Regions from separate parts of the Homo sapiens genome. Here regions 1, 3 and 4 are each reported to be linked to region 2. Evidence: microRNA targets listed by miRTarBase, many of them from high-throughput screens and not tested one by one. Region 2 holds a microRNA gene; each other region holds the end of a gene's coding sequence. Distances are between the middles of the regions.

Evidence for each region. The annotated mature microRNA hsa-miR-652-3p reads AAUGGCGCCACUAGGGUUGUG and lies in region 2 at 4,252-4,272, shown strand. An mRNA with a match to its seed (bases 2 to 7 or 8) in the 3' UTR can be bound and repressed. Matches are read on the target gene's strand: a 7mer-m8 pairs with bases 2 to 8, a 7mer-A1 pairs with bases 2 to 7 and ends in A, and an 8mer does both.
Region 1: miRTarBase lists DOCK11 as a target of hsa-miR-652-3p. The part of its 3' UTR that is shown has no 7-base or 8-base seed match.
Region 3: the mRNA of RPS19 is a reported target of hsa-miR-652-3p. Seed matches in the 3' UTR shown: 7mer-m8 at 1,139-1,145.
Region 4: miRTarBase lists SLC12A6 as a target of hsa-miR-652-3p. The part of its 3' UTR that is shown has no 7-base or 8-base seed match.

Annotation. Positions count from the first base shown.
Region 1 is chrX:118,684,818-118,691,970 of GRCh38, forward strand. It overlaps DOCK11 (dedicator of cytokinesis 11), which reads left to right. Exons shown (of 53, transcript NM_144658.4): 53 at 871-1,330. The coding sequence ends at 990. Among named protein-coding and RNA genes, the nearest start is that of IL13RA1, 39 kb to the right of the region's middle.
Region 2 is chrX:110,051,138-110,058,300 of GRCh38, forward strand. MIR652 (microRNA 652) reads left to right here and starts at 4,192; the gene lies at 4,192-4,289. The region is part of intron 2 of TMEM164 (transmembrane protein 164); the gene reads left to right.
Region 3 is chr19:41,870,338-41,877,500 of GRCh38, forward strand. It overlaps RPS19 (ribosomal protein S19), which reads left to right. Exons shown (of 6, transcript NM_001022.4): 6 at 1,014-2,588. The coding sequence ends at 1,040. CD79A (CD79a molecule) reads left to right here and starts at 6,942. Exons shown (of 5, transcript NM_001783.4): 1 at 6,942-7,046. The coding sequence starts at 6,968. RefSeq lists enhancers at 1,139-1,208, 1,449-1,708, 3,022-3,271, 5,607-5,676 and a silencer at 7,084-7,143.
Region 4 is chr15:34,227,695-34,234,694 of GRCh38, reverse strand. SLC12A6 (solute carrier family 12 member 6) reads left to right here. Exons shown (of 26, transcript NM_001365088.1): 26 at 723-4,911. The coding sequence ends at 814. It overlaps EMC4 (ER membrane protein complex subunit 4), which reads right to left. Exons shown (of 5, transcript NM_016454.4): 3 at 6,849-7,000; 4 at 6,106-6,266; 5 at 4,539-4,942. The coding sequence ends at 4,907. Among named protein-coding and RNA genes, the nearest start is that of EMC4, 6.2 kb to the right of the region's middle.

The DNA.
Region 1 (7,153 bases), 8.6 Mb from region 2:
ATAAATTTTATTTAAGCCTTATGATTTGTAGCAACACAAATGATATGTCTCAATACTGCCACTATAGATCAATCTGTGGGCTTAATACTGAAGTTTCACAACTAACTTGAGAACCAAGTATTGAAAGCTTGGGACCTAAGTTAGGACTTTATGGTAAAGAGAGTGGATATAATGTATATAGCGTTTTTTACCTCAATCTACTTTAAGCACAAGATTTCTGTTGCTTTTTCTTTAGATTACACAAAATGGATCATTTAAAAAATATTTAAACTAATACGAATATCTATGTTTATATACTTACTGGAATACAATCTTTAAATTTTATATTTATGAAGTTCTTCCTTTCCAAGAAAAATCTTCTGTATCAATTAGCTTATACAATTATAATGTGTCTTTAGAAATATGCACTTAAGACTTTTATCTTCATTTACTATTATTTTCAAGTCTCCAGGGAAGGAACATAGGTATCTGCATGTTTCAAAAGTCCCATAGATGATTCTGAGAACCACTGTGTTAGATCATTCATAAACTCATGTCAGAGTCTACCATTTAGAGCTCTTGTTATGACCATCTGTTAAAAAATATTTTAAAGATTGTGTTACCTCTCGCTTTTTATTGAATTTTGCATTTTACAGTCTTTGTTTTTCTTAATGAGTAACTAGATCTTTTCTGCTTTTTTGATATGCTGCCTTTGTAATACAGCTTTGAAGACTTAAGTCGGTAATGTTATTCTTTGCTCTCTCTGCTTTCTGTCTTTTTAAATAACTGTCAGTGATAAATTGAAATATGCCTGCAATTTCATATACACATTCTTTTTTTGGCAGTGGCTATTTTGCTTCATGATAATCATGCTGATTTCTTCTGTTTTAGATATTACAAGAAGACACAATGCATTCTCCCTGGATGAGCAACACATTACATGTATTTTGTGCAATTAGTGGTACATCAAGTGACCGAGGTTATGGTTCCCCAAGATACGCTGAAGTGTGAGGAAATGCAGATGTACGTGACAATGAGACTGACCTTTCTCAGGAATATTTGGAGCTGTGCAAATGTTAAAATTTAAAGATTTGATATACATGGAGTGTTTCTTCTCGACACCAAAATTTTCATGTGTTCCAACAGGGTGCTTACATATTTGTAAATAAGCAACTTGAAAGTGCCTGGAAAATTGCACCACTGTGCTTGGTTTGTACTTTTTTAGGTAAATCTATATGCTGAAAAGTAGAGCTCAAAAACAGTAGTTCAATTTGCTTAATTATTGCTTAAAATAATGGTACTATGTAAAATTGTATAATGGAATACAATAAAAGGTAAAACTTATTTGTAATTAGAAGTGAAAGAAATAATACTTTGAACTTAGCATTTTTCTTGACAAGAAGCTCAATTCATTATCATACTAATCCTTGGTAGGAGGAGAAGAAAATTGATAACATTTCCGTAATACACGGATATTTAAAATTGGGGAGATCATTTGAATCCTTGCCAATTAGTAGTCAAGGCTGGGCTAAAGGAACCAAAAGCATTATTTCACAGAAAATTTCAAAAGGAAAGGATATATTTACAAATATACGAAGCTTAGGCTGGACACGGTGGCTCATGCCTGTAATCCCAACACTTTGGGAGGCTGAGGCAGGCGGATCATGAGGTCAGGAGTTCAAGACCAGCCTGACCAACATGGTGAAACCCCATCTCTACTAAAAATACAAAAATTAGCTGGTCATGGTGGTGCATGCCTGTAATCCCAGCTACTGAGGAGGTTGAGGCAGGAGAATCGCTTGAACCCAGGAGGTGGAGGTTGCAGTGAGCTGAGATCACGCCACTGCACTCCAGTCTGGGCGACAGTGAGACTCTGTATATATAACATATATATAATAGTAAGCTTGAGATACCATATATATATGTTATGATCTGATGACGCTAGGTAATCTAGTAGGTCTCCCTTCTACATACAAGACATCTAAGGGATTTATACAGGGCAAGCAGCATTTGTTGCCAAAGCTTTATCATCTGGGGCCATCTACAAAGATAAAACATTTCTGAGATTGCAGTCAGTACATCCCACAGAACTTCAAAGCTTTTACAGCAATCTGAGGTAGGAGTTTTGTAATGATTATTTTCTTCAGTTACAAGATTAATAAACATTTTGATTAGAACTTAATGGTTGCAGCATGTCTTGGGTCAATGTAGAAAACCACCACAGATTTGGCAAACTAGCTTGGGATTATATTTCTGTCTATGAAGAAATCTCAGATTGCCTAAATAATTCAGGAGAAACCAAGATGTGAATGACATTTTTTAGCTTGAATTATCCAAATCATTTTGGCTGCCTTCTATGGGAACTCGGGTTCTAGACTTCCTTTTTTTTTTTTTTTTGAGATGGAGTCTCGTTCTGTCGCCCAGGCTGGCGTACAATGGCGCGATCTTGGCTCACTGCAACCTCTGCCTCCCTGGTTCACGCCATTCTCCTGCCTCAGCCTCCCGAGTAGTTGAGACTACAGGCGCCTGCCACCACGCCCGGCTAATTTTTTGTATTTTTTTTTTAGTAGAGACGGGGTTTCACTGTGTTAGCCAGGATGGTCTCGATCTCCTGACATCGTGATCTGCCAAAAGTGCTGGGATTACAGGCATGAGCCACTTTGCCCAGCCTACACTTATTTTCCTTATGTGGTTTAGCCTCTTTTACAGATGAAAAAACAGTCACTAAAATATAAATGGATTGCACGGGGCCTTGGCTTTTTGAGCACTTTGTGATCAAGTAAATCCTAGAGATTATGCTCCTGGCCTGACCATTTTTATTTTTATTTTTTGGGGGGTACCATTTTTTCTTTTTTGAGACAAAGTCTTGCTCTGTCACCCAGGCTGGAGTGCAGTGGCGCCATCTTGGCTCACTGCAACCTCCATCTCCCGGGTTCAAATGATTCTCCTGCCTCAACCTCCTGAGTAGCTGGGATTACAGGCAGGTGCCACCACGCCCAGCTAATTTTTGTATTTTTAGTAGAGACGGGGTTTCACCATGCTGCTCAGGCTGGTCTCGAACTCCTGACCTTGTGATCCACCCGCCTCAGCCTCCCAAAGTACTGGGATTACAGGCGTGAGCCACCGCGTCCAGCCCATTTTTTCTTTATATGTCATTTTTAAGCTTTCAGGAGAGCATGAACTTATTTATTAAAAGTTAATTTTGTATTTTAATAGGGGACTTTTACAAGTATTTCCAAGGCAGTTTGTAATTCCTTAATATCTTAGAGTAACCTGTAGAGTTAGTTTCACCTTTAAAGTGATTATATTTGATATGTATGTGTGAGGAATCATCACCTCTAGTAAATGCTGCATTCTGAGAGTTTGGCATCTTGAGGAGACTCCAGCACTCTTCTGTCTGTAACTAGTCCCTGTCAAAGCCCCTAGCACAGCAATATGCACTGTGGGTAGATTTTTTAATGTAATAAATGGCCCCTATTGCCAAGGATCTCGCAGTCTAGTTGAGAAAGCAAGACGCACAAAATTAAATAGTACAAGAATTAACAATGTAAGACAGGAGAAGTCATATGTGAGTATTGCCAAATGAACGACAGCATTCATAACTCAAATCACATTCAAAGAAAGAGATCACTGTGAATTGTAAATGTTCAGGGAGGGTTTAGTGAAGAAAAGTTAAGCTTTGAACAGGCTTCCAAAAATGGAGAGGGGTATTCTAGGCAGGAGGAACACCATAAGCAAAGGTGCAAAAAGAATTTGTGGAGGTTCAGGGGATAGTAAGGAGACCAGTTTTGTCCAAGAGGTGGTAGATGATAAATCTAGAAAATACAGGCTGGGCGTGGTGGCTCATGCCTGTAATCCCAGCACTTTGGGAGGCTGAGACAGGCAGATCACTTGAGCCCAGGAGTTCAAGACCAGCTTGGCCAACATGGTAAAACACTGTCTCTAATAAAAATACAAAAAAAAGTTAGCCAGGCATGGTGGTACACACCTGTAATCCCAGCTACTTGGGAGGCTGAGGCACAAGAATCGCTTGAACCCGGGAGGTGGAGGTTGTAGTGAGCCTAGATCATGCCATTGCACTCCAGCCTGGGTGGCAGAGTGAGATTCTGTCAACAACAACAACAACAACAACAACAAAAAGAAAGAAAAAAGAAATAAAATACATTCGGACTGAGATTTTGGAAGGCGCTGAATACCAGGCTAATGGTATTTGGAGTTTACTCAATAGGCATGAGAGAGCTAGCCAAGGTTTTTAAACAGATTACTTAATTAAATGTTATTTTTAGAAATTTAATCTTTTATATTGCTGCCAGATGTATTTGAGGTAGAGAGACATGGAAATTAGGAAACCAGTTACATAGATATTGCAATAAACTAAATTCAATAAACCTCTAGATGTGAGTGATATGACAAGAATGGAGAAGAAAGGACGAGTCCCAGAGACATATATGGAAGGACTAGGTAAGACTCATTGGATGGCCAAGGGAAAAAAAAAAAGAAATGTGAAAGATAATTTTGTGTCCTGTGGCCAGGGAGTTTGCCATGTCATGGCACAAGCTCACTAGATTTATTTTTCCAACTCTCAGACTAAAGGTAGCAAGCTGTAGAGAACAAGGTGGGCTCGAACAGAGAAAGCTAGGTAAATCTGTTTTTTAAACACTACATGTATTAGGCATTAAAGTGTATATAGTTTAATGATTTCTTGAAGTGATTTGTCCTCTACAAATTAATTAACACCAAAGAATACATTTCTCCTATACTGATTGTTTTGCAGTTAAGCTTGAGTCCAATTTCCCCTAGAAGTTGTTGTTTTGATAGTCTTTGGACATACTGTGAAATGTGATTAAGTCACCCTTGGTAGTGTTAGTTTATCACTACGGTGAAAAACCATAGAGAAAATAAGAAATTCCATGGAAATTTTCCTAGTAACCAGTTGTCACCACTGGCATCATGTATATAGATGGGATTGTTATTGTTACCGTATTTATATGATTTGGCTGCCTATCAAAATATTATATATTTTCAAAAGTGAAACAGAAAGCAGCAGTGGTAGTAATGTCCTTGGAACCTTGACCAACAACACATCATCCTAGAACTAGAGATGACTCTAATTAAGAAACTAGATAAGTCATGATAATAAGAACGCACATTTTTAAAAAACTATTTCGTATCTTTTTTTCTTCTAACTTTTAGGTTCAGGGGGTACATGTGCAGGTTTGTTCCATGAGATATTAGCTTTCTCTGAGATGAAGAACCTGAGTGATATAATGGATTAATAGGAATTTCCAAACTCTTCAAAACATTGATAATTAGACATATGTCTTGGGCTTCTGATCTCCAAAATGTTGGGCTACCTTTAGTCTCAGTCTTGTTCTAACAGTACACTAGTTCAGCTATCAAAAGACAAGGAGAGGAAAGGAGTAAAAGTTGGTTGTGGGTGGGGAGTGGGTTTGTGTAACAAGGCTATACCCCTGTCTTGGGAGTTGGTGAGTAAGAGTGCTTTATTTATCTTTTTTTTTTTTTTCTAAGCACTTAATGGTCACTGTCTAAAAACAGTGTATCTATGTTTGTTCATCTCCTAATGGGAGTCGTGGCTAAGTTCTAAGATTTTGCCTCTGTGCATAGCATTTTAAAACTTTTCCAATGTTCTTTTTTTTTGCTTTGTTTTTCCTTTTTATTGAGATATAATTCACATACCATACAATTTACCCATTTAAAGTACACAATTCAGTGTTTTTTAAAATTACATCCACAGAGTTGTGCAAGTATCACTACAATTTAAAACATGTTTATCACCTGAAAGAGACCCCATACTCATTAGCAGTCACTCCTACCGGTCATCATCCTCCAGCCCCTGGCAACCACTAATCTACTTTTTGTCCCTACAAGGTTTACCTGTTCTGGACATTTCATATAAATGCAGTCATACAATATGTGGCCTTTTGTGTCCAGCTTCTTTGACATAGCATATTTCCAAAGTTCATCGATGTTGTAGAATGTATCAGTACTTCATTCCTTTTTATGGCTAAATAATAATCCATTATATAGATACACCATATTTTATCTTCTCATCAGTTGATGGACATTTGGGTTATTTCCACTTTTTGGCTACTGTGAATAATGTTGCTGTGAACACTCACAAGTTTTTGTGTGGACATGTTTTTAGTTCTCTTGGGCATGTACACAGAAGTGGAATGACTGGTTCATATGGTAACTCCATGTTTAACCTTTTGAAGAATTGCCAGACTGATTTCCACGGCAGCTGCACCACTTTATATTACCACCAGCAATGTATGAGGGTCCCAGTTTCTCAATATTCTTGACAACACTTGTTATTATCTGCCTCTTTGATTATTGCCATCCTAGCAAGTGTGTAGTATCTCTTTGTGGTTTTCATTTGAATTTCCCTGATGTCTAATGATGTTGAGAATTCTTTCATGTGGTTACTGGCCATTTTTGTATCTTCCTCAGAGAAATATCTCTTTTAAGTCCTTAGACCATTTGCTTTTTTGAGACAGGGTCTTGCTGTGTTGCCCAGGCTGGAGTGCAGTGGTGCGATCTCAGCTCACTGCAACCTTCCCATCCCGGGCTCAAGCGATCCTCCCTTTTCAGCTTCCCAAGTAGCTGGGACTACAGATGAACACCACCACACCTGGCTAATTTCTGTAGAATTGGGGTTTCGCCATGTTTCCCAGGCTGGTCCCGAATTCCTGGCCTCAAGCAATCCACCCACCTTGGCCTCCCAAAGTGCTGGGATTACAGGTATAAGTCACCGTTCCCAGCCCCTTAGCCCATTTTTAAATCAGGTTGCTTTACTATTATTACTATTATTGTTGAGTTGCAGGGTTCTTTATTCGAGATGCAAGTATATGATTTAAACATATTTCTCCTGTTCTGTGTGTTGCCTTTTCACTTTCATGATGGTGTTCTTTGAAGCATTCAAGTTTTTAAAAATTTTGATGCAGTCCAATTTATATTTTCTTTTGTTGCCTGTGCTTTGGCATTGTATCTAAGAAGACCTTGCGTAATCCAATTTCACAGAAATTTACACCTATGTTTTCTCTTAAGAGTTTTATAATCTTAACTCTTACTTTTGGTCTTTGGTCCATTTTGAGCTAATTTTGTATATGGTGTGTTGTAGGGATTCAGATTCATTCTTTTGCATGTGGATAAC
Region 2 (7,163 bases):
GAAGATTTTTTAAAATGGTGACTAAGGTCCCTTTCTCTAAGGTTACTGGGATATTAAGCAGTGGGTAGAACAGTGACTTGTAAACCCGGCTGTACATTGAAATCAGCTGGAGCACTTTAAAATACTGATGCCCAGGCCCCAGGCCCAACCAGTTGAGTAGGCATCTTGAGGAGTAGGCCCCAGGAATTTTTTTTTCTTTTATGAAACAATAAACTGCCTACGTGAGTCTAATGTGCATTCAGTATTTAGAACTGCTGGGTTTTACAGCAAAGCCAAACAACTTGGTTCTGGCTGTTTGAGCCAGGTGAAGGAAATAGAATCAACTTTTCTGTACCTTAGTTTTACCTGCCTAGAACAGAGAAGCACTAAAGCTTAAGAATTTAAAGAGGCTTACTGTGACCCCCCTGTCATTATTGTTGCATACAAAAGAGAGGTAACTTTCTTTCAAAAAAAAAAAAAGAAAGAAAGAAAGAAAGAAAGAAAGAAAATCCAGTTATTCAGCTGGCTTGGCTTCTGGGCTGTAACAGTGGCTTGAGGATTAAAAGAAATCTTTCCAGTTGCTTGAAGAAGGGTTATCTGTATGGAGGAACAGCAGCTTCATTCCCAGTGTGGTTTGGACAGCGCATTCCAGGTTTTCAAACCTGCCTCAGCTTCCAGCTGACTCCCTTCTCATGCCCCAGGTGGTTAGCAGAGTTAGGCACCATACTTATATTTTTAGTGAAATTGCCTTTTAATAGTATTTTCCTAACATAAAAGCAACAGATGTTCATGATTCAAGCCCGGAACATTATAGGAATATGACACATAGCAAACAAAAGTCCCCTAGAAGTCGGTCTCCCAGACATATCCATTGTAAGCATGTTTTTCCTTCTGATTTTTATCTCTGCATATGCTAAACATTTTATATTTTTATTCTAAAAATGGGATCATTCAACAATGTTTGTATTTTTTTTTCCTTAATATCTTAGCCATCAGTCCATGTTAGTACATATAAATCAACCTCATTCTTAAGGACCCCTGATTCTTAGGATTTTAGTCACACAAGGGCACAATCTCCTTCCGCTTCCCTCCAAGATTTTGCTTTCCTATGGAAAGGCTTGGGTTTTGTTTGTTTCTTTGGGCTTCAAATAGAGCAAATCCATTATATCTGGTATATTTATGTTTGGTTGTTATTTAAAAATTCATACAATTTTAAAGGAATAGAATAGCATATATGATTCCCTCCAACCTCTGACCCCTGATCCACTAGTTCTTCTCCCCAGAAACAAACTGCCATTACCAGATTCTTGGAAATCCTGAGAATTACTGCATGCATAAACAAGGCTTGAATATTCTAAAATGGCTTTTGCTTAGGTAACCAAGTCTATCCATATTGTATGGAGACATCTTGTTTCATTTATTCATTCAGCAAGTACCTGATGAGCATCTCATATGTTCCAGGCACTGTGTTAAGTTCTGGACCTACAGTGAGGACCATCACACAGCTCCTGCTCTCCAGAAGCTTATGGTCAGCAGGGAAGATCAACATTTAATGAAAACATAGCTAAATATAAATGAGAAATGGTGATATGTGTTGTGAAGGAAAAGAACAGCATTTACATGCATCTGTTTTTTTTTTTTTTTTTTTTTTTGAGACGGAGTCTTGCTCTGTCGCATAGGCTGGAGTGCAGTGGCGCCATCTTGGCTGACTGCACCTTCCGCCTTCCAGGTTCAAGCGATTCTCCTGCCTCAGCCTCCCGAGTAGGTGGGGCTACAGGCATGCACCACCATGCCCAGCTAATTTTTTTGTATTTTTAGTAGAGACGGGGTTTCACCATGTTGGCCAGGATGGTCTTGATCTTTTCACCTCATGATCTGCCCACCTTGGCCTCCCAAAGTGCTGGGATTACAGGCGTGAGCCACCATGCCTGGCCTACATGCATCATTTTTTAAAACAGTGATTAATGGAGTCCCCTTTCCCAATTTTTTAATACAAAGGTGTGGATGGGAGATTTGCAGCAAAGATAGGAAAGCAAAGATATAACCCACAATCTTTACTCTTGCCAACAGCTCTTACCTTCTTTCCCACCAAAATTTTCCTTTGATAAAATGTCTTGCTGAGAGTTAGGCTAACTCACCAACCAGCTTTAATTTTGGTTGACAGGGTGCCGTAGAAGACCTTTGCTAGCCAGACTGTGAGCTTCTTGCAGACAGGAATTATGTCCTGCATCACTGTGTGCTCAGAACCTCAGGAAGAACAAACTGATGTAGGCACCAGGAAATAGGTGCTTTTATTACATTCTCATTTTATGCCTTAGAAGCACTGCAAATGGTAGGTATTCTTATTTCTGTTTTAAACAATGAGAAAACTGAGGCTTAAGGAGGTGTAAAAAATACTTTCTTTTAAAAAAAATACACCTCTCCCCCACCATCATAAAAACCCCAACTTTGGCCATAGAGTTCATTGGTGGTGGAGCACTGCAAACATTAGCTGTCCCATGTGGCTTTGACTCTGACACAATTGGTCCTCTTGCTTCAGGGAACTGGATACCATCCATCCCTCCCATGGGTTGGCCTAGGCTCTGTTACTTCAGAGTTTTCTTGACGAGTTTCAAGGTAACCAGGTCATCCTGTTCTACATATTTTTCTGGGATTGAGGTCAAGGAGCAGCATGATCCTCTCTTAAATGGGTCAGAGGAGGAGGACTCCTGTGGCTCCCTGAAAGGTCAAGCCCCTTCATGCTAACTACACCGTCTTCCCTTCTCTTCCAGCTTATGTCCTGGGCTGGGCTCTGGACAGGGAGCAGAGGCAGATGTGCGCATGTGTTCTGGAGGACTTTTATATGTCCGATGGTGTGTTAGGCACTATGTGGAGTGGAGGCAGAGGGAACTCCAGAAAAGATAAATTATCTTATGGTGGAGACAAAAGGTAGTATTGGCAACAAACATGACCTCTGGAATCAGATAGTTTTGGGTTCCAGGCCTGACTCTTTGACTCACTTATTAGTTGTGCGACCTTAGGCAATTTATTTAACCTTTCTGTAGCTCAGTTTCCTTGTATGCAAACAGGAGGAAAATAATAATCTCTTACATAATAGGATTGCTATGAAGAATATATGAACTAATATGTGTAAGACATTGACTGTAGTGCCAGGCACCTAGTAAGCACTCAGTAAGGAATAACTACTGCCATTATTGTTGTTACTAACAACAGTATGAGACTAATAAGTGATTAGTGTATAAGTACCAACAAATACCAATGGAGTTCAGAAAAAGAATGCTTAATTTTTGTGACTTATCCAGGAAATCTCTAGAGGAGACAGAAGAAGTGGAATGAAATATTCCAGGTGGAGCAAATATGAAAGTGGGAGGCTGAACTGAACTGGAGTGGGGAACAAAAAGAAGAAACAAACGCAACATCTGGCACCCTTGAGCTCTACCACCAGCTCACCTGTTGTCACTACCAATATGTCCAGTCCTTTATGGCTCTCCATTTTGGAGTGCCCTGAATTACTGGCTGCAGTTTTGACTTGGCCAGCTAGTTGGCCAGCTGCTCTGACTGAGCTTGAGGGTGTCTGTGCCTTGGTGGAGTTGACACGGGTCCTAACTCTGCAACTTGGTTTGTAGGTTCAAAGCCTAATTTTTATCAGCTTACCCAGGGCTGTTGGTTTCTAGTGGATTGGGTCACACTCCCCAACATTACAAAACACTTCTTAATAAATCACCAGGCTGATAAGTCGATTGATGATGAGAGAGAGACCTTTATAGAGATGAGAACACTTGTGTGTATCAGCCCTTTCTGATATCAAGGTACCTGAAGCCAAATTAAACAGGGACTGTTTTATAACCTAAAATCAGAACCTAATGGAGTTGAAAAGTCTCATGAGCGAGACCATATAGGCTTTGGTAGTCCATGGAAAACTGTACCTTTTTGCATGTCTGTCATAGCTTTGTAGTGTGACCAGAATGTGTGTCCTGTTCTCTCTCCACTGCTGGAGAAACATCAGTAACAATTTTTCTCTTGGATGTTCCTGTTTTCAATTCCATGCAAATGCTGTTTGTGTGCTATGGCCATGCTATTCTCTTGAATTTCTTTTTTCTTGACAAGATTTTTGAGTTGCCTACTTCTCAGCGACAACATAGTGATTCTCTCATTGAGTGTTCTTTTTGGCTTTGTTCTCAAACACTAGGAATGTTTCCAAGCAGGGCCGCCACGAATGGCTATGCACTGCACAACCCTAGGAGAGGGTGCCATTCACATAGACTATAATTGAATGGCGCCACTAGGGTTGTGCAGTGCACAACCTACACAACTGTACTCGGCGGCCCTGGCATAATGTAATGTCAGTACTTTCTTCATCAAGGTACCAGTTTGGGATTGTCCTCAGGGTAAGGGGGCTGAAGCAGTGAGCTGCTGCTGTGACCAGGAAAGGAAGAAAGAAGTAAAGTTGTGGCTTTGGGAGAATTATCTTCTCTGTAAATGAGAGCCATCATATAGGAGAACTACGTACCTTCGTTCTTTCAGTAAATAGTTTTTTAAGTGCCTACTATGTGAGGGTTGAAGAACAGGGAGGGGTTTGCATAGGAGGGAGCATTTGAACTGGGCTTTGTGAAAGAAGTAGAATATTAACATGTGAAGATGAGTCAGGAGGAGAGAATCTCAGGGGGAAGGAATAGCGAGAAGAAAGACAGATGGGAGACCACAAGGGATATATGGGTAATGGTGCATAATTCATCTTGGTTGGATAGAAAAGCATGTAAAAGGGAGTAGTGAGCAATGATGCTGGTCGGGGGTCAAATGATGATGCAGGAGGGGAGGGAGTTGAATGCCCAATTAAGGAATTTGGACTTTTATTTATCAAGCAATAAGGAGCTATCCAAAGTTTGTTTTTTAAACAGCTTTATTGGGTTATAATCATATACCATATAATTCATTCATTTAAAGTGTACAATTGAATGTTTTTAGTATATTCACATATATGTGCAACCACCACCACAGTCAAATTTAGAACATTTTCATCATCCAAAAAATAACTCCATACGATTTAGCTCACCCCCCTCCCTACCTTTCCCCCACTCACCAGCCCTAAGCAATTGTTAATCTACTTTCTGTTTCTATAGATTTTATCTATTCTGGACATTTCATAGAAATTGAGTAATTATAATATGTGACCTTTTTCCACTGGCTTCTTTCACTTAGTATGTTTTCGAGATTCATCTGTGTTTAGCATGTATCAGTACTTCACTTATTTTTATGGCCAATTAATATTCCATTTTAAGGATATGCCACATTTTATGTATCCATTTGTCTGTTGGTGAGCATTTGGGTTGTTTCTGCCTTTTGGCTATTACAGATAATACTTCTGTGAACATCTGTAAGTTTTCAGGTGCACATAGGTTTTTATTTCCCTTGGACATAGGTTTTCATTTCCCCCAGGTATAGGAGTGGAATTGCTGAGTCATATGATAACTCTATGTTTAACCTCTCAAGGAGCTGCCAGACTGTTTCTCTAAAATGGCAGCATCATTTTACATCCCTACCGACAGTATAAAAGGGTTCCAATTTCTCCACATCCTCATGCACACTTGTGTTTGCCTTTTATATTTTGGCCATGCTAGTGGGTATGAAGTGTCATCTCATTGTGGATTTGATTTGCATTTCCCTGATGACTAATGATGTTGAACATCTTTTCATGTGCATGTTGAGTACCCGTGTGTTTTCTTTGGAGAGATGTCTGTTCAAGGTTATTTATCTTTTTATTGTTGAGTTTTTTTAATACTTTAGCTATTTTTAATGTATATATTTAAGGTTTTCAACTTAATGATTATATATATATATGGAAATCACCACAATCAAGATAACACATGCATTACATCATAGAGTTATCATTTATGTGTGTATGCGTGTGTGTGTGTGTTGGAAATACTTAGGATCTATTCTTATAGCAAATTTTAAGTATACAGTACAGTATTTTCACCTATAGTCGCCATGCTGTACATTAGATATCCAGGACTTACTTGTCCTGGAAAACTAAAACTTTGTACTTTTTGACTAACATCTTACTTTCCCAGCACCAGCCCCAGCTAACCATCATTTTATACTCAGCTTCTATGAGTTAGACTAATTTACATTTCATATTTATGTGACATCATAAGATATTTTTCTTTCTGGCTCATTTCACTTAACATAATGTCCTTTGGGTCCTTCTGTGTTACTGCAAATGATAGGATATCCTTCTTTTTAAAGGCTGGATAATATACCACATTTTCTTTATTCATGCATCCATCGATGAACATTTATCTTGTTTCTATATCTTTGCTATTGTGAATAACGGTGCAAGGAATATAGGAGTGCAGATATCCCTTTGAGATCTTGATTTCAACTGTTGGATAAGTATTCCAGAAGTGGGATTGCTGTGTCATAGAATAGGTCTTTTTTTTTTTTTTTTTTTGAAACTATACTATTTTTGATAATGGCTCTATTGATCTCCATCAGCAGTTTTCCAGGGTTCTGTTTTCTCCACACCCTTCCCAATATTGCCATCTTTTGCATTTTTTATAATAGCCATTCTGACAAGGGTGACATGAGATCTCACTGTGGTTTTCATTTGCATATCCCCAATGATTAGTGATGTTGAGCACCTTTTCATATACCTGTTGTCCATTTGTATGCCTTCTTTGGAAAAATGTCTATTCAGATCCTTTGCCCATTTTAAAATTGGGTTATTTGTATTTCTGCTATTGAGTTTATGAGTTCTTTACATATTTTAAATATTGACATCAAATTTGTGGTTTGCAAATATTTGCTATATAGCTTTTTAGGTTGATGTAGTCCTAATTGTTTTTGTTTGTTTGTTTTTTACTTTTCTTGCACGTGCTTTTGATGTCATATTCAAAAAATCATTGCCAAGACCAATTTCAAGAAGTTTTTCCTATGTTTTCTTCTAGGAGTTTTATGGTTTCAGATGTTACATTTAAGTCTTAAGCCCATTTTGAGTTGGTTTTTGTGTGTGGTGTAAGATAAGAGTCTGATTTCATTACTTTGCGTGTGGATATCCAGTTACCCCAACATCATTTGTTCAAGCAAGCATCTTTTCCCCCATTGTGTATTTTTGACCCTCTAAGGTTCTTTATTCCTTTTCATCCTTTTTTTTCTTTTTCTCTTCTGATGAGGTAATTTTAAAT
Region 3 (7,163 bases), not on the chromosome of region 2:
AGGTCAGCCTGCGATGTTTCCCCTTAGTCCTCATGCGTACTGAGCATCACATGGGCTGCTTGGGAGAGGTGGAGATAAGGGAGGGGGGCTGGTTCAGAACCCAGGTCTCCATTCAGATCCTGGCTGGCCAACACCCTGGGGCAGAGTGGCCACACCCCTGGTGCCACAGTCTCCTGTCTTGGCCTCCCTGTGGCCAAAATCTACCCTTGGCCACCTCAAGCATGGTAGTGAGGAGTCAGTGAGCTATAGTACAGCAGGAGCACCCAGGGCCTGGCATGAGCTCAATTCTGTATCACTGACTCAGGCCTCCTAGGAGCCTTGGAGCATTTAGTCAGTCAAGTGTCACAAAAGAATGGAAAGTGTCAGCCCTCTAGGAGTTGGGGGTGGTCTGGAAGGAGAAAGCTCTTCCAGGCAGAGTGGGGCTTGGCGCACACATCATTGCTGGTGGTTGGATGTTGGCCTTCTCACATGGCAGTGGGCGGAATTTGGACTCCACTCCGCCACTCCCTTCCTTTTTTTTTTTTTTTTTTTTTTTTTTTTTTTGAGACAGAGTCTTGCTCTGTCGCCCAGGCTGGAGTGCAGTGGTGCAATGTCAGCTCACTGCAACCTCTGCCACCTGGGTTCAAGCAATTCTCCTATCTCAGCTTCCCGAGTAGCTGGGACTACAGGCACACACCACCACACCTGGCTAGTTTTTATATTTTTAGTAGAGACAGGGTTTCACCATATTGGTCAGGCTGGTCTCGAACTCTTGACCTCAGGTGATCCACCTGCCTCGGCCTTCCAGAGTGCTGGGATTAAAGGTGTGAGCCACTGTGCCTGGCCACTCCCTTGAGACTCAGTTTCCACGTCTGTGAAATGGGGGAATACCCACAGTGAGAATTAGATGAGATAGATGCATTTGAAACCACAAATCGGGGTGCCCACCTGTGGTGGGTAGTTAGGTAGCTGTTACAAAGTGCCCCAGCAGAGACCCCCTTGACTAACTTTTATTCTTCCATCTTTTCCCACAGGTGGCAGCTGCCAACAAGAAGCATTAGAACAAACCATGCTGGGTTAATAAATTGCCTCATTCGTAATCCTGGTCTGGGTCTCTTTTTTGAGTCTCTTGCTCTGTCGCCCAGGCTGGAGTGCAGTGGCGCCATCTCAGCTCACTGCAATCTCCGCCTTCTGGGTTCAAATGATTCTCCTGCCTCAGCCTCCCAAAGTGCTGGGATTACAAGTGTGAGCCACTGTGCCTGGTCTGGTTTGGGTCTCTTGATTGTTCTTCAGGGGCATGAGGAAGAGGCGCTTCCTCCCTTCCCTTGGGTGAGGGGGCCCAGGGTGATTGGGTGGCTGTTTACCCGGCAGCCAGTCGGGCCTTCCCAGGTCAAACAGTTCCCATCTGGGTTTGGAGGAAGGACCCAGGGGCCCTTGTGGCTCACTCCCCCACATCCTGTCTTTGCAATTGTCAGAAAGTGAGAAACGAAAGGATGGCTGTGAGCTGTGACCTCAGCTGGGCCTGGGCTGCAGAGGTGGCTTCCGCTGGAGTAAAGCAAGAGGGCCCAGGGTTCATGCTCTTCCCTGGAAGGTAGAAAAGGACAGACCACCAGGGAGCCTCCACCGCAAACTGACCTGTGCTGCCTACACACTAACTTTCCTGGGCCTGGGGCCTGCACAGGCTGAATGGTCCTTGAGCCTTCACTCTGCATCTGAGCGGTCTTGGGCCCGCTGAGTGGCAGTGGCAGGAAGTCGGTGGAAGCAGATCCCTGTGCAGAAGTTGAATTACCAGGGCGGCCACACACGGGCTGCACAACCTTTGCAGTCGTGCACGGCAAGTGGGATGTGGCCTCCGCCCATGATTGGGCACCTGGTCAGGCTGGGAGATCCAAATAGCACCCAGTGGGCAGCTGTCCGACCCCTGGAGGGGCAAGCCAGGAAAGAAACTTAGGGCCCGCTGTGACCAGATGTCCCTCCCAGTTGGGAAGACTAAACTGGTTTGGCCAATATCTCCCAGGATTCCCCTGTCCAAATTATTCCTGGGATCTGACCCATTTCCTGGAAAGGGGCGAGCCTGGGTTTTGAAGTTCAAACTAGAGTTTAAATCACAACTCTGCCCCTAATCCCACGTAACCCTGTGCACCTTATCCTCTGAGCCTTCGTCTCCTCGTGTGTAAGCCTGCTAACTCCTGAGAGACTGGACAAGATGCCGTGGAGAGCCTTGGCTCTGAGTAGCTCTGCTGCTGGACAGTTCAGTTGGCAGTCCCCAAACGTAAGGCGTAAGAGTTTAAGAAGTATCGGCCAGGCACAGTGGCTCACACCTGTAATCTCAACACTTTGGGAGGCCGAGACGGGCTGATCACCTGAGGTTGGGAGCTTGAGAACAGCCTGACCAACATGGAGAAACCCTGTCTCTAAAAATACCAAAATTAGTTGGGCATGGTGGCGCGCACCTGTAATCCCAGCTACTCAGGAGGCTGAGGCAGAAGAATCGCTCGAACCCCGGAGGCGGAGGTTGCAGTGGGTTGAGATCGAGCAATTGCAATCCAGCCTGGGCAACAGAGCGAGACTCCATTTCAAAAAAAGAATCAATAAAAATGTTAAAAGCACCGTTGTTTACACTCAGCAACTCTGTGAAGTAAGTGCCGAAAAGTGCTTTGGAGGTAGGTAAAGTAAGCCATAGGCTGGGTAACTTGCCAGATATCCCACAGCTGGAGCCATCATATGAACCCAAGCAACCCAGCTGCAGCCTGGACCTAGCCACTCCAAGGGCTCTGTGCCTCAGAAAAGAGGCCCAAAGGGTTGCACTCTAGCTGCAGGCCAGTCACTCCCCATTCTGGGCTCTAGTTTCCTCTTTTGGCCATTAATGAAAACATTTCCCAGAGCTGACATGAGAACTCAATGCCAAGCGTCCGGTTTGCACAGCAGCAGGCATTGCGCTTCCCAGGTAGGAAGCAAGGTCTAGGTGTCCCGAGCAGGCCTGCAATCCCGCAGCCGCGCCGCTCCAGCCACTGGGGAGCAGTAGAGGGCCTAGAAAGAAGCTCAGCCACCGAAGGCTCTTGAAGGTGAATTCCTAGGGCTTCCAGGTCTGGAGCCAGGCTTATTCCTGGGAGGGGGTTGTAACGGGGAATTGAAGTGCAGAGGGGCTAGTGACCCCAGCAGAACACCTGGGGTCCTGGTTCCCAGGGCTACAGAACTGTCCTAGATACTGTGCCAAATGCACTGCAGAATATTCTTGCAGTCTTATCAAGTGGGGGGTTTGTACCCATGTTATAGGAGAAAAAACTGAGTTTCAGATGACCAGTCAGTTGGCAGAGCTGAGTTGTAAAAGAATCCTGGACTCTTGAGGCCCAGGCTCTTCTGCGTGGATGGGAATTGCCCTTTTCCCATCTCCTGGGTTCACGCCATTCTGCCTCAGCCTCCCCAGCAGCTGGGACTACAGGCACACGCCGCCATGCCCGGCTAATTTTTGTATTTTTAGTAGAGACGGGGTTTCACTGTGTTAGCCAGGATGGTTTTGATCTCCTGACCTTCTGATCCGCCCGCCTCAGCCTCCCAAAGTGTTGGGATTACAGGCGTGAGCCACCGCGCCCAGCTGGCAATTGCACTTTTTTAAAATTCTGCACTCTAGGAGGCAGAGGTGGGCAGATCACTTGAGGTCAAGAGTTTGAGACCTTGGCCTGGAGTGGTGGCTCACACCTGTAATCCCAACACTTGGAGAGGCCGAGGCAGGTGGATCACCTGAGGTCAGAAGTTCGAGACCAGCCTGGCCAACATGATGGAACCCTGTCTCTACTAAAAAATACAAAAATTAGCTGGACGTGGAGGCAGGAGAATCGCTTGAATGCAGGAAGTGGAGGTCACAGTGAGCCAAGATTGCACCATTGTACTCCAGTCTGGGCGACAAGAGTGAAACACCGTCTCAAAAAAAAAAAAAAAAAAGAGTTTGAGACCAGCCTGGCCAACATGGTGAAACCCTGTGTCTATGAAAAAAAAAATTGGCTGGGCATGGTGGTGCACACCTGTAATTCCAGCTACTTGGGAGGCTGAGACAGGAGAACAGCTTGAACCCAGGAGGCGGAGGCTGCAGTGAGCCAAGATTGTGCCGCCACTGCACTTCAGCCTGGGCAACAGAGCAAGACTCCATCTCAAAAAAAAAAATCTGAAATACTTCAGGCATGCAAGTATTTAGCATTCAGTATTCATAATGTAAGAAAAACCTATGAAGCACAACCCAGTTTAAGTAACACAGGCAGGGCAGGGTGCAGTGCCTATAATCCCAGCACTTCGGGAGGCCAAGCTGGGAGAATCACTTGAGGTCAGGACTTCCAGGCCAGCCTGGGCAACACAGTGAGACCCTGTCTTTACAAAAAATTTAAAAAATAGGCCCAGTGCGGTGGATCATGCCTGTAATCCCAGCACTTTGGGAGGCCGAGGCGAGTGGATCATCAGGTCAGGAGATTGAGACCATCCTGGCTAACACGGTGAAACCCCATCTCTACTAAAAAAATACAAAAAATTAGCCGGTCATGGTGGCATCTGCTTGTAGTCCCAGCTACTCAGGAGGCTGAGGCAGGAGAATCACTTGAACCCGGGAGGCGGAGGTTGCAGTGAGCCAAGATCACACCATCGCACTCCAGCCTGGGCTACACAGCGAGACTCTGTCTCAAAAGAAAAAAAAAATTAAAAATAGCCAGGCATGGTGTGTGCACCTGTAATCCCAGCTACTTGGGAAGCTGAGGCAAGAGAATCACTTGAGCCCAGGAGTTTGACGTTATGATTATGCCACTGGACACCAGCCTTGGTGACAGAGAGAGGCCCTATCTCTAAAAAAGAAAAAAAAAAAAGTGGCCAGCCACGGTGGCTCCCGCCTGTAATCCCAGCACTTTGGGAGGCTGAGGTGGGTGGATTACCTGAGGTCAGGAGTGTGAGACCAGCCTGCCCAACATGGTGAAACCTGGTCTCTACTAAAAATACAAAAATATAGCCAGGCATGGTGGTGGCCGCCTGTAATCCCAGCTACTGAGGAGGCTGAGGCAGGAGAATCACTTGAACCTGGGAGGCAGAGGTTGCAGTGAGCCAAGATCACGCCACTGCACTTCAGCCTGGGTGACAAAGCGAGACTCCGTCTCAAAAAAAAAAAAAAAAAAAGTAACACAGGAAATAAAACCAAGACAAGATGAGCTCTCTGTGTCTCTGTGTGTCCCTCCCCAGACCCAACCCTGGCGTCCCCCAGAGGTAACCCCTCCCAGGAACTGGGCGTTTGCCACTCCCCTGCACGGGTCTACACCTCTGCTACAAACGTGTGTCCCTAAGCAGCGGACGCCTTTTGAAAACAAGTCAACTGTATCATGCTACGATATTTTTTCTGATGTTTGTGCTGTTTCTGAGACAGCCTTATGACACCTTCCCCTATTCTGTAGCATTCTGTTGGCTCACTTTGCCACAGTGTATGCACCCATTCTCCCACAAATGGACTTTTCATTTGCTTCTCAATGTTTGCTACCAAAAATCTCCCTGCAATAAATTTATTTTATATATCCCCTTGTATGTGTGTGAGGGTCCCCTAACTGCTCACAAATATCTCAGCAACTCCGCCCTCCCCACTCAGACCTCATTTCCCTCCTACCAGACATGCTCAAAGGAAACTGGGAGCAACACAAAGATGACTTTGAATCTCTGTCCACCACCCCTAGACTGTATGACACCCGCAAGTGACAACCTCCCCTCTCTGGCCTCGGTTTCCCCCTCTGTAAAATGGGGGATGGCCTACCTTGCCAGTCATGGCAGGTCAATATAAAACAACTTCTGGCTGTGCACAGTGGCACATGCCTGTAATCCCAGCACTTTGGGAAGCTGAGGCAGGAGGATTGCTTGAGGCCAGGAGTTCAAGACCAGCCTGGGCAATATAGCAAGATCCCATCCCTCTTAAAAAAAAAAAAGAAGAAAAATATATGTTGTTGTTGTTATTATTGTTATTATTAGAGACAGAGTTTCGCTTTTGTCACCCAGGCTGGAGTGCAATGGTGTGATCTCAGCTCACTGCAACCTCCACCTCCTGGGTTCAACTGATTCTCCTGCCTCAGCCTCCTGAGTAGCTGGAATAATAGGCATGTGCCACAACATCTGGCTAATTTTGTATTTTTAGTAGAGATGGGGTTTCGCCATGTTGGCCAGGCTGGTCTCAAACTCGACCTCAGGTGATTCTCCTGTCTCAGCCTCCCAAAGGGCTGGGATTACAGGCATAAGCCACCATAGCTGGCCTGTTTTTTTAAAAAAAGAATTCCAGTAAAGAGCTGATCATGGTTCTCACTCCTTGAATACCAGGAACACCATCTCGTATCACATAATGAGACAGGGAGACATTCTGGTCCTCATCTCACAGATGAAAAATGTCAAGCTTCGAAGGATCAAAGTGCCCACCTAGTCACACGGGTAGTCAGCCACAGGTCAGCCTGCCTTATTTATTCTTCATGAGTATTTATAGTGACTAACATTTACTGGGCGCCTACTGTGGGCCATTTCTGTGCATGTGACAACCCCTTTAAGTCCTTGTTTCTAATCCCAAGAAGCAAGGAAATGGGGTCAGGGAAGGGACAAGGTTTGCCCAAGTCCAGGCAGGGGGAGAGGTCAAGCTCAGAACCATCACCTGCCCATGACACATGCCCAGGACTCAGGTTCCCTAGGCTTCCTTCCAAAGGCTCAGCAGTGACGAGCCAGCCCTTGAACCAGCCTCTTCCCCCACCCAAGCAGCCACCTCTCAGGGGAATTGTGGCCACCACAGGTGCAGGGAGCAGTTTCTCTCCACTCACAGCCTGAAGCATACCCGGCAGGGGCTGTCCCCAGGCCCAACAAGCAAAGGGCCCAGTAGCGAGGGCCACTGGAGCCCATCTCCGGGGGGCTGGGCAGGAAGTAGGGTGGGGTTTGGGGTAGGGATCTGGTACCCTGGGACTGCTGCAACTCAAACTAACCAACCCACTGGGAGAAGATGCCTGGGGGTCCAGGAGTCCTCCAAGCTCTGCCTGCCACCATCTTCCTCCTCTTCCTGCTGTCTGCTGTCTACCTGGGTATGTGGCCAAAGGGCAGGAACTGGCGGGAGGTGGGGGAAGCTGTGGAGGCTGCAGAGAGGGCACAGGCAGAGGGAAGGGGGCTCAGGGAAAGGGGAAGAGGAGGCAGAGGATAGG
Region 4 (7,000 bases), not on the chromosome of region 2:
ACCATTAAGAAAGAAGAGGTTTAGGCCAGGTGTGGTGGCTCATGCCTGTAATCCCAGCACTTTGGGAGGCTAAGGCAGGTGGATCACCTGAGGTCAGGAGTTCGAGACCAGCCTGGCCAACATGGTGAAACCCCGTCTCCACTAAAAATAGAAAAGTTAGCTGGGTGTGGTAGCAGGTGCCTGTAATCCCAGCTACTCGGGAGGCTGAGGCAGGAGAATCACTTGAACCAGGAGGTGGAGGTTGCAGTGAGCCAAGATCGCACCATTGCACTCCAGCCTGGGCAACAAGAGGAAATTCTGTCTCAAAAAAAAAAGAAAGAAAAGAAAAAGGTTTAAAAAGAAAAAGACAAACCGAACTGGCAGAAAAATCTGACTTGAGCAGCTTCACTTAGAAATTACTTGGGTTCTCTCTAGGAATCTTGTTAGCTGCCCTATTGTGGCTTTTCTTCTTCTTTCATCATTTTTATCTTATTTAGAGTAACACTTCTAGGTTTTCCCATTTTTTAAATACACAAATGGGAGTCTGGTATTATGTATGCAAAAGGACTGGATCTCTGGTTACTTCACAGGGTTAAATTCAATCCAAAGTTCAGACTTTTCTGAATATATAATAATTAAGCAGCTAATTTTGTAGCTCTATGATCAGATAACCTCAGATTATGATGATGCCAGGTTTTAAGTTTGTGCTCTTCTTTTGCCTGTCTCCTTGACAAGTTTTGAAGACATGGAGTTCCTAGAGGTGCTTACCGAGGGACTAGAGCGAGTCCTACTTGTCCGGGGTGGTGGCAGTGAAGTGATCACCATTTATTCATAACCTACTCTGAATGACCGTGCTTGACCTGTTTTCTTAAAAGGCCTACGTCCTCCATGGAAGTGCCAGCTCATTACTACCACTCCCACTCAACTAGAAGCCTGTGTTCTGTACACATCATACTGAACTCTTGATGAGCTGAGCCTCAAGTACCTGTGTAAAAGAGCTCCCATCTGATCTGCAGTCATTACAGAAAAAGCAAATATTCCCTCAACATCAGAACAATGCTCAAGTCTTTCAAGCCACGTCTGAGCAGTCAAAGGCAAATTAGAATTAACAAGCTGAGCCAATAAATGAATTGGTAAAAGGGATGCTAGAAATTCAACTGAAGAAAAAAAGCAAGTCAAGTACGTATTCAGCATTAAAGATGAATCTCAGAAGTCATGGTTCAATGTTGACACTGTGAGGATAACAACTAGAGACAGCTTCATCTTACTAAAGAATTTATGGTCAAGTATATTTGGACCTATTATCCTCGGCAAGCCAAGATGCAAACATTTTTTAGCTATATTTCTTTAGTATACCCACTGCTGTAATTTTATATTAGGATACTAACTTGAAACATGGCTGCAGCCTCTACTTCTTCAAAAACATCCCCCCAAAATACCAGATTTAAATATCCAAATACTGTGTCAGTGTATACTTCAACTGTTTTGTTTCTCTTAACTCAAAACCCATTCTGTCATTGTAACACAGGCAGTGTTACCATGGAAATTGTTTTTGGTAAGGTAAAAATTATTTCTTTCAGGTTCCTTTCAAATGGCCGAACTAAGAGAACTCCAAAAGGAAGCTATTAACATTTACTGAAATAGTCTGTGGTTCTCTATACAACATGGACAAAACATACAAGCTGTTGTCTAAGAAATGCAGGTCATGGTGCACATTAATCAACAGGTTCTTCTCCCCCCGCCCCCACCCCCGCGCCTTTTTTTATGCCCTCTTATTAAGCACAGGTCAAAAAATCTTAAGGAACAAATACTAGGAAAACTGGCTAAACATCCTTCCCTGAAAGCACTGGACCATCTTTTAAAGGGCACATCTAGCAATGGAATTGGAAGTTCTAGAGCCACACTCTTTCTTTAGTGCCAACGTTACTGAGCGGCTACTCTCCTTACCTACTTTACTAAAATGGCATACAGATTGGCATTGACCTGTTGAAGAAATTTTACCACTAAGAAATCTTTTGCCTCATCTACAAAGCCATAGTTAAGACTTGAGGCATTCAACTTAATGCCAAGTATAAGCATTTCCCCCTTTTTCTTTCAATTTTATTCTTCATTCTGACTACAGAAACTTGGCCCTGAACTACGAGATTAGCCAAGCCAACAGTCTTCTAATTTGTTTTCAGAAACTTCAGGCCGGGTGCCGTGGCTCACACCTGTAATCCCAGCACTTTGGGAGGCCAAGGCAGGTGAATCACTTGAGGTCAGGAGTTCGAGACCATCCTGGCCAACATGGTGAAAACCTGTCTATACTAAAAATACAAAAATTAGCTGGGCATGGTGGTGCATGCCTGTGATCCCAGCAACACGGAAGGCTAAGGCAGGAGGATCATTTGAACCCAGGAGGCGGAGGTTGCAGTGAGCCAGGATTGCACCTCTGCACTCCAGCCTGGGTAACAGAGTGATATGTTTCAAAAAGAAAGTTCAGTGTGCCAAGGAAATACTTGTGTAAGCTCAGCTTTTTATTTACTAATATACTGATCAAACATCTGGCTTACAAGCATAGGGAAACTACTTATGTGGCTGGCTGAGCAGTAATTTCAAGTATGTGAAATCTTCATTTCTTTTACAGAATAGTTATTTAGAGAAACTTTTCTTGCCTGTATTCATGGCTGTTTTTGAATTTCAATTTATTAGTCATAAATAGTGCCACTCTTCTTTGATTACTAAATAGGACATGGAGCAAGCTGACCTAGGTGTCACAAATTATTCATTTGACCTGTAAGGACAGAGAAAACCCTTCAATATAGCTTAAGAAATTGAGTAATTTTGGGCCGGGTGCAGTGACTCACGCCTGTAATCCCAGCACTTTGGGAGGCCGAGGCAGGCGGATCACGAGGTCAGGAGATTTGAGACCATCCTGGCTAACACGGTGAAACCCTGTCTCTACAAAAATACAAAAAAATTAGTCGGGCATGGTGGCGGGCGCCTGTAGTCCCAGCTACTTGGGAGGCTGAGGCGGGAGAATGGCGTGAACCCGGGAGGTGGAACTTGCAGTGAACCGAGATTGCACCACTGCACTCCAGCCTGGGCGACAGAGGGAGACTCCATCTCAAAAAAAAAAAAAAAGAAAGAAAGAAAGAAATTGAGTAATTTTGATTTGTTCCCTTTGCTTGCTTCAACCTCCAGGCCCACTGAGGATGGCAAAGCGGATAGGATCTTAAGTCTTTTTTTCTGTTACTTCCTACAGATGGTAGAAGCATTATTTACAACTCCCACTGCAACACTCCATTGCTTAGTTGAGTTTAACAGTAGTGAGTCATGTCCTGCAGGATCCAGTATCTTTTTTTTTTTTTTCCGAGACGTAGTTTCGCTCTTGTTGCCCAGGCTGGAGTGAAATGGCACAATCTTGGCTCACCGCAACCTCTGCCTCCTGGGTTCAAGCGATTCTCCTGCCTCAGCCTCCCGAGTAGCTGGAATTACAAGCATGTGCCACCACACCCAGCTAATTTTGTATTTTCAGTAGAGACGGGGTTTCTCTACTGAAACTGATGTTGGTCAGGCTGGTCTCGAACTCCCAACCTCAGGTGATCCGCCCGCCTTGGCCTCCCAAAGTGCTGGGATTACAGGCGTGAGCCACTGTGCCCAACCAGGATCCAGTATCTTAAAGGCCCATACTGTAAAGGTCAGCCTGCCTAGGAATTCTGCCACATTTACACACACCCCTGGCCAAAGTAATATTTTTTTTTTCCATGTAGAACAAATTATGGGCAGAAAGTAAAGTTAGTTTTAGAAGTGCTGTTTGTGGTTGGAGAATTGTAAAAATCTTTTAAAGGGATAAGGGAATTAGTGGCTTTTAATATAACCACTGCTTCAGCCCGAAACACAAAATCACTGTTACATGGAAAACTGGTTATTAGGCCAGATTTATATTCATGTCTGTCTAGAGTATTTCATGTGTGTATGTGTTGCTTACGTTGTCTGTCTCCAAAGTCTCTCATCTCTTTTAATCACTGCAAATAAAGCAATACTGAAAACTTGAGAGAATGCACCTTAGGGGAAGGGGCTATTTCAAGACAGAAAACAAAGGAAATACCTGCCTTTTGAATAAGATCCCGCTTTTGAGTCTTACCTATGACTTTACCAGGGTAGATTAGAAATACACATCCTCCTGCTGACCCTCTGCCTTCAATAGCTATCTATCTTAAAAGCTGAAGTTTGAACTGCAGCATCTGCTTGACAGGTGCCAGGTTCCTTCGGCAGGGGGACGATCACTCTATATATCTTCCGTTGCCTCAGATTCCTGTGGCCCAAGGATCCCACCAATCCTCGTTCCCCCTAAACATGCTAACAAAAATCCCTTATCGTGGGTATTAAAATAATAACAGTTACACTGTATGCATATTTATGTGCTCCTTTTGTCTGGTTTTTCTTTTCATCATGTATAAGCTGAATTCAGCATTAGTTTCTCACATCTTCCCCCAGGTATCCCCAACAGAATTTTTATGTCCCAGCTTGTATTAAATAGAAGTGAAATATTAAGGAAAATAAGGAACTTGTGCAACTTTTTTTATGCATTGTTCTCAACCATTTAATTTATTGAAAGGAGATGCTGCAACAGTTCTTGATTTAGCAGCAGTTATTCTCTTGTTTACATAGTTATGTTTTTTTGTTGTTGTTTTGCTCTGTACTGGAAACAAAAATAAAGTTTTCTACATTATTTTCAGCCTTGGGTTATGGTATAGTTTCTTTGTGTTTGTCGTAATATGCACATTGTCCTTCTAGGACCTGTCACCCCACCATGGAGAAAAGAGTCTTTTGGTTCTTTTTAACATAAGTGATTAGTTTAAGAGTATGCTGAGGAGCCACTGGGCTTAAAGAAGGATGTAAATAAGACCCAAATACATAGGGACCAGGCGCTGCTTTCTCATGTTCACAAAAGCAGTCCTCCACCACTGAACTCCATTCTCTGAAAGAAGAAAGAAAGAATAAATAGGTGAGTGGCAAATGAGTGTTAAAATAACTTCCTGAATCAATTACTTAATACTTTAACCACAAGCTCTATTTTGCCTATCCTTAAAAAAGAACTTCCAGGCCAGGCGCAGTAGCTAATCTTAGCTAAACACTTTGGGAGGCCAAGGCAGGCAGATCGCTTGAGCCCAGGAGTTCAAGACCAGCCTGGGCAACATGGCAAAACCCTGTCTCTACAAGAAATACAAAAATTAGCGAGCCATTGGGGTGCACACCTGTAGTCCCAGCTACTTGAGAGGCTGAGTGCCTGAGCCCGGAGGTTGAGGCTGCAGTGAGCCATGATCACATGACTGCACTCCAGCCTGGGTGACAGAGCAAGACCCTGTTTCAAAAATAATAACTTGGCCAGGCATGGTGGCTCACACCTGTAATCCCAGCACTTTGGGAGGCCGAGGTGGGTGGATCACCTGAGGTCAGGAGCTGAAGACCAGCCTGGCCAACATGGTGAAACCCTGTCTCTACTAAAAATACAAAAATTAGCCAGGTGCAGTGGCAGTTGCCTGTAATTCCAGCTACTAGGGAGGCTCAGGCACAAGAATCGCTTGAACCTGGGGGGCGGAGGTTGCAGTGAGCCAAGATCACACCACTGTACTCCAGCCTGGGCGACAGAGTGAGACTCTGTCTCAAAATAAATAAATTAATTAATTAATTAAAAATAATAACTTAAAAACTCCTAATGGCTCTTATTTTTTAAGAAACCCTAGGCCAGGCGCAGTGGCTCACGCCTGTAATCCTAGCACTTTGGGAGGCAGAGGTGGGCAGGTCACTTGAGGTCAGGAGTTCAAAACCAGCCTGGCCAACATGGTGAAACCCCATCTCTACTAAAAGATACAAAAAAATTAGCTGGGCATGGTGGCAGGTGCCTGTAATCCCAGCTACTTGGAAGGCTGAGGCAGAATAATTGCTTGAACCCAGGAGGCGGAGGTTGCCGAGATCATGCCACTGCACTCCAGCCTGGGCGACAGAGCAATACTCCGTCTCAAAAAAAAAAAAAAAAAAAAAAAGAAACTCAAATACCAACTCCAATTTCCTACCATCAAGTAGGTCAGCTATTCACTGTATACTACAACTACCCAAAATTCAGCTTTTCTTTTGCCTTACCTCAGGGGGCTCAATGAAGGCTAACCAATCCGATGCATGTGTAGGTAACAGTCCCATGGACTGGCACTTGTAAACAGCCAATGCCAAACCCATCAGGTTCCCAATGAGATAGACCAAACCCTGAAGAAACTTCTGGCTTGAACTTTCTAACATCTTGAAAGCTGTTGCGGTAACAGAAGTTGTCAAACCAAAAGAACTCTTTCCCCCAATACGAATCAAGCCAACTGTATATTAAATTCATATAGACAGACCCATAGTAAGACAGCAAATAGGACCATTAAAGGCAAACAGAAAACCATGGTAAGCACTACACTCCCCTCCATGCCACCACCATTACCCCACTCCCCTATATACCTGTTAGCCAAAAACTGTCCCTAAGAATTTACCTTTAATTCTTCCTTTTTTTTGAGATGGAGTCTCGTTCTGTCACCCAGGCTGGAGTGCAGTGGCACGATCTCGGCTCACTGCAACCTCTGCCTCCCAGGTTCAAGTGATTCTCCTGTCTCAGCCTCCCAAGCAGCTGGGATTACAGGCGTGTGCCACCACGCCCAGCTAATTTTTGCATTTTTAGTAGAGACAAGGTTTCACCATGTTGGCCAGGCTGGTCTCGAACTCCTGCCCTCAGATGATCCACCCAGCTTGGCGCCTCCCAAAGTGCTGGGATTACAGGCGTGAGCCACCATGCCCGGCCTGCCTTTAATTCTTCAAACTTATGGAAGGGTTATTGTTTCAAGAATACTTACTGGCTGAAATGGCCATAAGTGCCTGAATGGGTCGCCAGGCCATCATACACACCATCATAGTAGGGAAGATGGAGATAGTATTGCCTGCCATGTACATGATGAAGAGATTCATGGGAATCTGTTTGAGGGGACCCAAGGCGATGTCCCAGCAG